Linked DNA regions of Homo sapiens. The protein of the gene in region 1 purifies or fractionates together with the protein of each later gene. This does not show direct contact. Each region holds a gene or a part of one and is shown in the gene's direction. Other genes may lie near its edges.

What was found.
Region 2: the proteins of PRRX1 (region 1) and GTF2I purify together in Homo sapiens (co-purification; one study listed by BioGRID). This does not show direct contact.

The regions. Positions count from the first base shown.
Region 1 is NC_000001.11:170,723,085-170,726,904, forward strand, and holds part of PRRX1 (paired mesoderm homeobox protein 1), read left to right. Parts: intron 1-3,135; coding exon 3,136-3,317; intron 3,318-3,820. UniProt on the Homo sapiens protein: Master transcription factor of stromal fibroblasts for myofibroblastic lineage progression. Orchestrates the functional drift of fibroblasts into myofibroblastic phenotype via TGF-beta signaling by remodeling a super-enhancer landscape.
Region 2 is NC_000007.14:74,660,618-74,664,437, forward strand, and holds part of GTF2I (general transcription factor II-I), read left to right. Parts: intron 1-3,820. UniProt on the Homo sapiens protein: Interacts with the basal transcription machinery by coordinating the formation of a multiprotein complex at the C-FOS promoter, and linking specific signal responsive activator complexes.

The DNA.
Region 1 (3,820 bases):
CAGTAGATGATATAAAACGAGGCAATAAGGTGATTGTATTAACATTTAAGATGATAGCTCTAAGAGCAATGTGAAGGCACATTAGAAACAGAAGAGCCAGGAGTGTGGGAAGCCAAGTCCAGATTCCACCTTGGCCAATTTCCACCCAGGCCCTTCATGCTGCACAGCTCTACAGGGCACTGATCACGTGGTAATTTATGTGTATGTTGGCCCCTCGAGCTGTACAACTGCTCACTCCACAAAAAGAATTTTCTTCTCCCATACCTTGTTATACATTTCTATAATTGCACTTAAAATACTTGTTTTGTAGTTTTTCAAATTTACATGTCTTCATTTAATAGGTTTTGATCTGCTTAAAAGCAGAGAATAAGTTTCTCATCTCTCTCTTTCCAGCATTTAGTACTGGGCCTGGACCATAGCAGGTGCTCCATAAAGATTTCTTGAATGAGTAAATGAATGAGTAGAATTCCATAGCACTCTAGAAGAGTTGTATGATCATGAATTGGATGTCCTTGACTTCAGAAACTCAGCCATTTATTATTTATGTGAATTTCAACAGATTACAGTCATACAATGCTTAACAATGGGGATCTGTTCTGAGAACTGCATTTTTAGGTAATTTTGTCATTGTGCAAACATCATGGAGTCTACTTACACAAATCTAGATGGTATAACTGACTGCACACCTAGGCTATAGGGTATAGCTTATTGCTCTTAGGTCACAAGCCTGTACAGCATATTACTCTACTGAATAGTGTAGGCGATTGTAATACCATGGTAAGTATTTGCGTATCTAATCATATCAAATAGCAAAAATTTGGTATTATAATTTAATGAGACCACTGTCGTATATGAGGTCCATCATATGTGGTGCATGACTGTATTTAATCTCATTGAAATTGCTTCCTCAACTGTAAAATAGAAATAATAAAACCTAATACGTGGAATTGTCATGTTGACTAGAAATAATGTATGTAGTGTGCTTATATAAGTTCCTAGCCCTGGTAACACTTAAAAAACAATATCGTTTGCCCACTTTTTCATGGGATTGTTTGTTTTTTTCTTATAAATTTGTTTAAGCTCCTTGTAGATTCTGGATATTAGACCTTTGTCAGATGGATAGATTACAAAAATCTTCTCCCATTCTGTGGGTTGCCTGTTCACTCTGATGATAGTTTATTTTTCTGTGCAGAAGCTCTTTAATTAGATCCCATTTGTCAATTTTTGCTTTTGTTGAAATTGTTTTTGACGTTTTCATCATGAAATCTTTGCCCATGCCTATGTCCTGAATGATATTGCCTGTATTTTCTTCTAGAGCTTTTATAGTTTGGGGTTTTATACTTAAGTTTTTAATTTATCTTGAGTTAATTTTTGTATATGGTGTAACAAAGAGGTCCAGTTTCAGTTTTCCGCATATGGCTAGCCAGTTCTCCAAGCACCATTTATTAAATAGGGAATCCTTTCCCCATAGCTTGTTTTTGTCAGGCTTGATGAATATCAGATGGTTGTAAATGTACAGTCTTTTCTGAGTTCTCTATTCTGTTCCATTGGTCTGTGTGTGTGCTTTTGTACTAATACCACGCTGTTTTGGTTACTGTAGCCTTGTAGAATAGTTTGAAGTCAGATAGTGTGATACCTTCAGCTTTGCTCTTTTTGTTGAGGATTGTCTTGGCCATACGGGCTCTTTTTCGTTCTATATAAATTTTAAAGTAGATTTTTCTAATTCTGTGAACAATGTGAATGGTAATTTGATGGGAATAGCATTAGATCTATAAATTACTTTGGATGTATAGCCATTTTTGTGATATTGATTCTTCCTATCCATGAGCATAGAATGTTTTTCCATTTGTTTGTGTCCTCTCTGATTTCCTTGAGCAATGGTTTTTAGTTCTCCTTGAAGAGGTGCTTTACTTCTCTTCTTAGCTGTATTCCCAGGTTTTTTATTCTCTTTGTAGCAATTGTGAATGGGAGTTCATTCATGATTTGGCTCTTTGCTTTTCTGTTGTAGGTGTATAGGAATACTTGTGATTTTTGCATACTGATTTTGCACCCTGAGACTTTGCTGAAGTTGCTTATCAGCTTAAGAAGTTTTTGGGGTGAGACGATAGGGTTTTCTAGATACAGGATCAGGTCATCTGCAAACAGAGACAGTTTGACTTATGTAGCAAACCTGCACATCCTGCACACGTATCCCAGAACTTATAAAATAAAATAAAAATAAATAAAATTAAATTATAGGTTTATTATTAGTTGTAGCAAATGCTGTCAGTGCTGTCCATTTCCCTTGAACCCTACAATTAGGTGTAGTCTGGTCAGCTTCCAACTTTCAGTGCCTGCATTTCTGTGCCAGCAGTTTCTTCCTAGAACTTCAGGAGAGTGCCCTGCCTTCAGCATTCTAGAAGTGCTGGAACATTAATAGACAATGACTGACAGGATCCAGTGTACACACACCCAGCTCTATCACCTCCAAGAGGGATAACTCTGAAGTGTGTGTTCTACGTTAGTCTTAGTCTTCAGGTTCTCTGCAGGATTGAGCTACCACAGAGATAGCTGGTTTAGTAGTACACCCTTTAGTGGTTGCCTTTTCATCTCTGTTACTTCCTTGCTCCCCAAATGGTGGTCTTTGCACCTCCCAAATAAAACATTTCCTTCTTAAATCTTTGTTGGAACATCTACTTTTGGGAGATGGGGAATTTTCTTAAAATATAATTATTATGAAAGCAGATGAAATTTTCACATTTTGAAGAATTTTGAAAAAGCTTTTAGAAAAGTCATTATTTCTGTGGCAGAAGCCTAATGAGATTTTTCTTCACTTTTCTTGATTACAATTGTAACAGGGATTATAACCCATATTTTGCTGTCCCGTGGGTAAGTCACAGATCCCATATCTGGAGACCTGATTACTGGAGAATTTCATGGTCTTGTTGTAATAGTCTTGACCTTTAAGAATGGCCCTCATTGAGGGAAGGCGGATGGCATGTTTCTATTGTTCTACGGAGAATTCCATAGCCATCTTATATCTTCTTTGGGAAGGCATTATATAGTAAAATCAAGCAGAATTTCATTCATGTAACCCCTTCTTCTTTGTTTTTCCTCTCTTTCCTTATGCCTTCTTGCCTCCTAACAATCCTCCAGGTGTGGTTTCAGAACCGAAGAGCCAAGTTCCGCAGGAATGAGAGAGCCATGCTAGCCAATAAAAACGCTTCCCTCCTCAAATCCTACTCAGGAGACGTGACTGCTGTGGAGCAGCCCATCGTACCTCGTCCTGCTCCGAGACCCACCGATTATCTCTCCTGGGGGACAGCGTCTCCGTACAGGTGAATGACTGGCCCACTCTCCCTTGCTCCACTTCCACATGTTTCTCAGCGGTCGGTCATGTTTCAAGCTGCTTGTGCAGCTCACCGACATTTCTTACTGGGTTAATCTCTTCAGAGACATTCAACTTGCTGACATCCCCACATTTTCCCAGGAGATTATAAGCTGCCCCAGCAGCAGGGTTTGGGGCAGAAGTGAGAGGGGCAGGCTATCTCACCAATCTCCTCTTGGACTCAGGAACTCTTGCAAAGGTTTCAAAGATGAGGAAGAATCTAAAAGAAAAGATCATTAAGCTGTGCCCAGTGTTCCTCTTGCAACAATTCTGGAACAAAACTTTACCCTGTTTCCAAATTTAAGCTAAATTCGTTGTATTATGCAAATGTAGGGACGTAACTTGTAAAACTCCAAGTATAGGGCCAAAGGCAAACTTTGCAGTAAAACTGGCTTTGAATTAAAAAAAGGAAGAAGGAAGGAAGGAAGAAAGAAAGGAAAGAAGGAAGGAAGG
Region 2 (3,820 bases), on another chromosome or scaffold:
TTTCTTTTTTTTTTTTTTTCGGAAGCGGAGTTTCGCTCTCGTTGCCCAGGCTGGAGTGCAGTGGCGCGATCTCGGCTCACTGCAACCTCCGCCTCCCGGGTTCAAGCGATTCTCCTGCTTCAGACTCCTGAGTAGCTGGGATTACAGGAGCGCTCCACCACGCCCGGCTAAGGGCACTTTTACTTTCCTCTGCATCTGGCCTAGTCACTGGGTGTTGAGCTCGTAGGGGCAGGGACAAGAAGCCTTTTCCTCCTATGTCTTTCTCCCTCCACTTCCCCCTCCAGTTTGGCATCGTCCTCGTGCCTTGCCGGTGGTAGCAATGCTGCTTACATTTGAGTGTCTTCCGTGCCCCCTCCATGGCTCTTGAGCGCTTTGGATGTACAGTATTTTTCTTATTTAATCTTTGTGACAAGTCTGTAATTCTATTCTATAGAGCGGAACAAGTCTAGAGAAGTTGGAGAGTTCTGTACTCTTGCTTGCCTAGCACATGAACCTGGCCAGTGTGACTCAACCCCTAAGCCGAGGTTGTGAAACCACCGCGCCTGGGCGTCCCCGGGAGAGCTGGCATGTGCGGACTCTGCTTGCTGGGCCCTACCTCCCAGGCTGATTCTGCAGGTCTGGGGAGTTGCCCCACAATTTGCATTTCGATTAGCTCCCCAGGTGGTGTTGATGGTGGCTGCTTCCCGGACAGCCCTTTGAGAACCATTCACAATGGTGCAAAATGAAGGGAGAGAAATTTATTGGAGATATTTGCTTTTTCTTACTTTAAAATTAGATCTTGGCCGGGTGCGGTGGCTCACACCTGTAATCCCAGCACTTTGGGAGGCCGAGGGAGGTGGAACACCTGAAGTCAGGAGTTGGAGACCAGCCTGCCGACATGGCGAAACCCCGTCTGTACTAAAAATACAAAAATTAGCCGGGTGTGGTGGCGTGCGTACGTAGTTTCAGCTACTTGGGGAGGCTGAGGCAGGGGGATCTCTTGAACCCAGGAGGTGGAGGTTGCAGTGAGATGAGATCTCACCACTGCACTCCAGCCTGGGCGACAGAGCGAGACTGTGTCTCAAAAAAAATAAAAATAAAATAGATGTTAAAGAATGAAAAATAATTCGGACGACTGACGGTAGATTGCTCAGAAAACTGGCTGAGAGTTGAGAATTCCTGTTAGCCATGATTAGAAAAGTTAAAAGTTTCATAAGTCTCCAGTTTAAAAAGGGGCCATGGATTTAAGTGTGGAATAAAATGGGAAATCTTTGGAAGTTTGGCTTTTTTCCCACTCTGATTTATTTATTAATTTAGTCGCAGCACGGGCATTTGTTACATTATCCTCTTCAGATGCCCAAAGTCTGCCACACCACCACACAGAAGGTTTGAGTGATAGGACCACAGCTTGTAGTTTTGGCCCTTGGAGGTAGGGGGGTTGGGGAGCATTGTGTGCTGAGTCTCCTCTGCCACATGCCCCTCCAGCGATTCAGCTTACTCAAATATGACTACAGAGACTGACATTAAAATGTAGGCTTTGGGGGTTCTTTTTGCGGGACGGGGTTGGGGGCAATTCTTGCTGAGAAAGATTTTTAGGTTTTTTCTTTCTTTTTTTTTTTTTTTTTTTTTTTTTTTGATGGAGTTTCACTCTGTCGCCCAGGCTGGAGTGCAATGGCACAATCAGCTCACTGCAACTTACGCCCCCCCAGGGTCAAGTGATTCTCCTGCCTCAGCCTCCGGAGTAGCTGGGATCATAGGCATGCGCCACCATGCCTGGCTAACTTTGTATTTTTAGTAGAGACGGGGTTTCTGCATGTTGGTCAGGCTGGTCTCGAACTCCTGACCTCAGGTGATCCGCCTGCCTTGGCCTCCTTAAGTGCTGGGATTACAGGCGTGAGCCACTGCACCTGGACCCTTTTTTTTTTTTTTTTTTTTTTTTTTTTTGAGACACAGTCTTGCTCTATCGCCCAGGCGGGAGTGTAGGTGCGTGGTCTCGGCTCACTGCTACCTCTGCCTCCTGGGTTGAAGTGATTCTCCTGACTGAGCCTCCTGAGTAGCTGGGATTACAAGCACGCACCACCACGCCTGGCTAATTTTTTGTATTTTTAGTAGACACGGGGTTTCATCATGCTGGCCAGGCTTGTCTCCAACTCCTGACCTTGTGATCTGCCCGCCTAGGCCTCCCAAAGTGTTGGGCTTACAGGCGCCCTGTGATTTTTAGGTTTTTAAAATTATAATGGATTTCTTTCCGGGGAAAATAACCGCAGATAGGTGGGAGGAATGGTTTTAGTTTACAGTTGATGACCCCCCTCCTTTCCCCACCTACACCCTTAGGCGAGTTGTACACACTCCTCAGGGGATCCCAACTTCCATGGCCACTGTCCTATGTTCTGGCATTTTCGATGACCCATAGGTGGACAGGTTGTTATCATCTAAAGGAGCTGAACACTGAACAATTACTAAACACTTAACCTTTTCTGTTATTACTGGTTACCAGCTATTTGCATTGCATTTCACCTAATTCATTTCTACTGTTGTTTCATTCTTTGTTGATGACATGAATGTTTTATATAAACATGAGTTTTTGCAATATGCTTCATAACTGGGGTGGTATAATTAACACGAAATTGTTTTACCACTGGCTTAAATAGATGGATGTCAAATCATTTTTATGTCAGTCTAAGGGAAAGTATTTATTTATTTTTTTGAGATGGAGTCTCGCTCTGTGGCCCAGGCTGGAGTGCAGTGGTGCCATCTCAGCTCTCTGCAACCTCCGATTCCCGGGCTCAAGCGATTCTTGTGCCTTAGCCTCACGAGTAGCTGGGATTACAGGCATGTGCCACCATGCCCAGCTAATTTTTTTGTATTTTTCATAGAGATGGGGTTTCACCATGTTAGCCAGGCTGGTGGTCTCCAACTCCTGACCTCAAGTGATCCACCCACCTCGGCCTCCCCAAGTGCTGAGATTACAGGCGTGAGCCACTGCGCCTGGTTCGTTTATTGAGTGAAGGTTATTCATTGTTAATAACTGAAAGAAAGTAGAAAATACACCTAATCAGTTGCTTATTCTAATTGTAGAGTTGAGATACTTGGGAATCAGTAGGCTTAAGCTGGCAGCATAGCTCTATGAAGACTCATACTCGGTTAACTAAAGTGTATTGGGGCTACCTACCTGGGGGAGCAAAACGCCTTAGTGTCTTAGAAGATGTGTGTTTTTTTATTGCATTTTATTTTATTATTATTTATTTTTGAGACAGAGTCTCGCTTTTGTCACCCAGGCTGGAGTGCAGTGGCGTGATCTTGGCTCACTGCAACCTTCGCCTCCTGGGTTCAAGCGATTCTCCTGCCTCAGTCTCCTAAGTAGCTGGGACTATAGGCACCCGCCACCATGCCCGGCTAATTTTGTATTTTTAGTAGAGACGGGGTTTCACCGTGTTGGCCAGGTTGGTCTCAAACTCCTGACCTCAGGTGATCTGCCCGCCTTGGCCTCCGAAAGTGCTGGGCCACCGCACCCAGCCAAGGATGTGTGTATCCTGTAAAAATTGTGTGGGTACGTCATCGGAAGAGGTGAAGGTATTGTCTTGATAATTCTTCATTCTCCATTCTTGCCCTGTCGTCCTTTACTGTTGTCCTTTTGTTCTGGAACTCTCCCTGCTGTCTTCCTGTTTGTTTTCTCCTCTGTAAAATTCTTGTTTTGGTATTCCATGCCTGTTTCTGGCAGTACTCATTTGCTTTTTACCACTTTGGCCTACTGAGAAAGTAAGAGAAAGTTCAGTATAGCCAGGAACTGTCAGAGTTGTTGGAGGATTGACTCATTCTCCTTTGGTTGTAACTTGTTTCT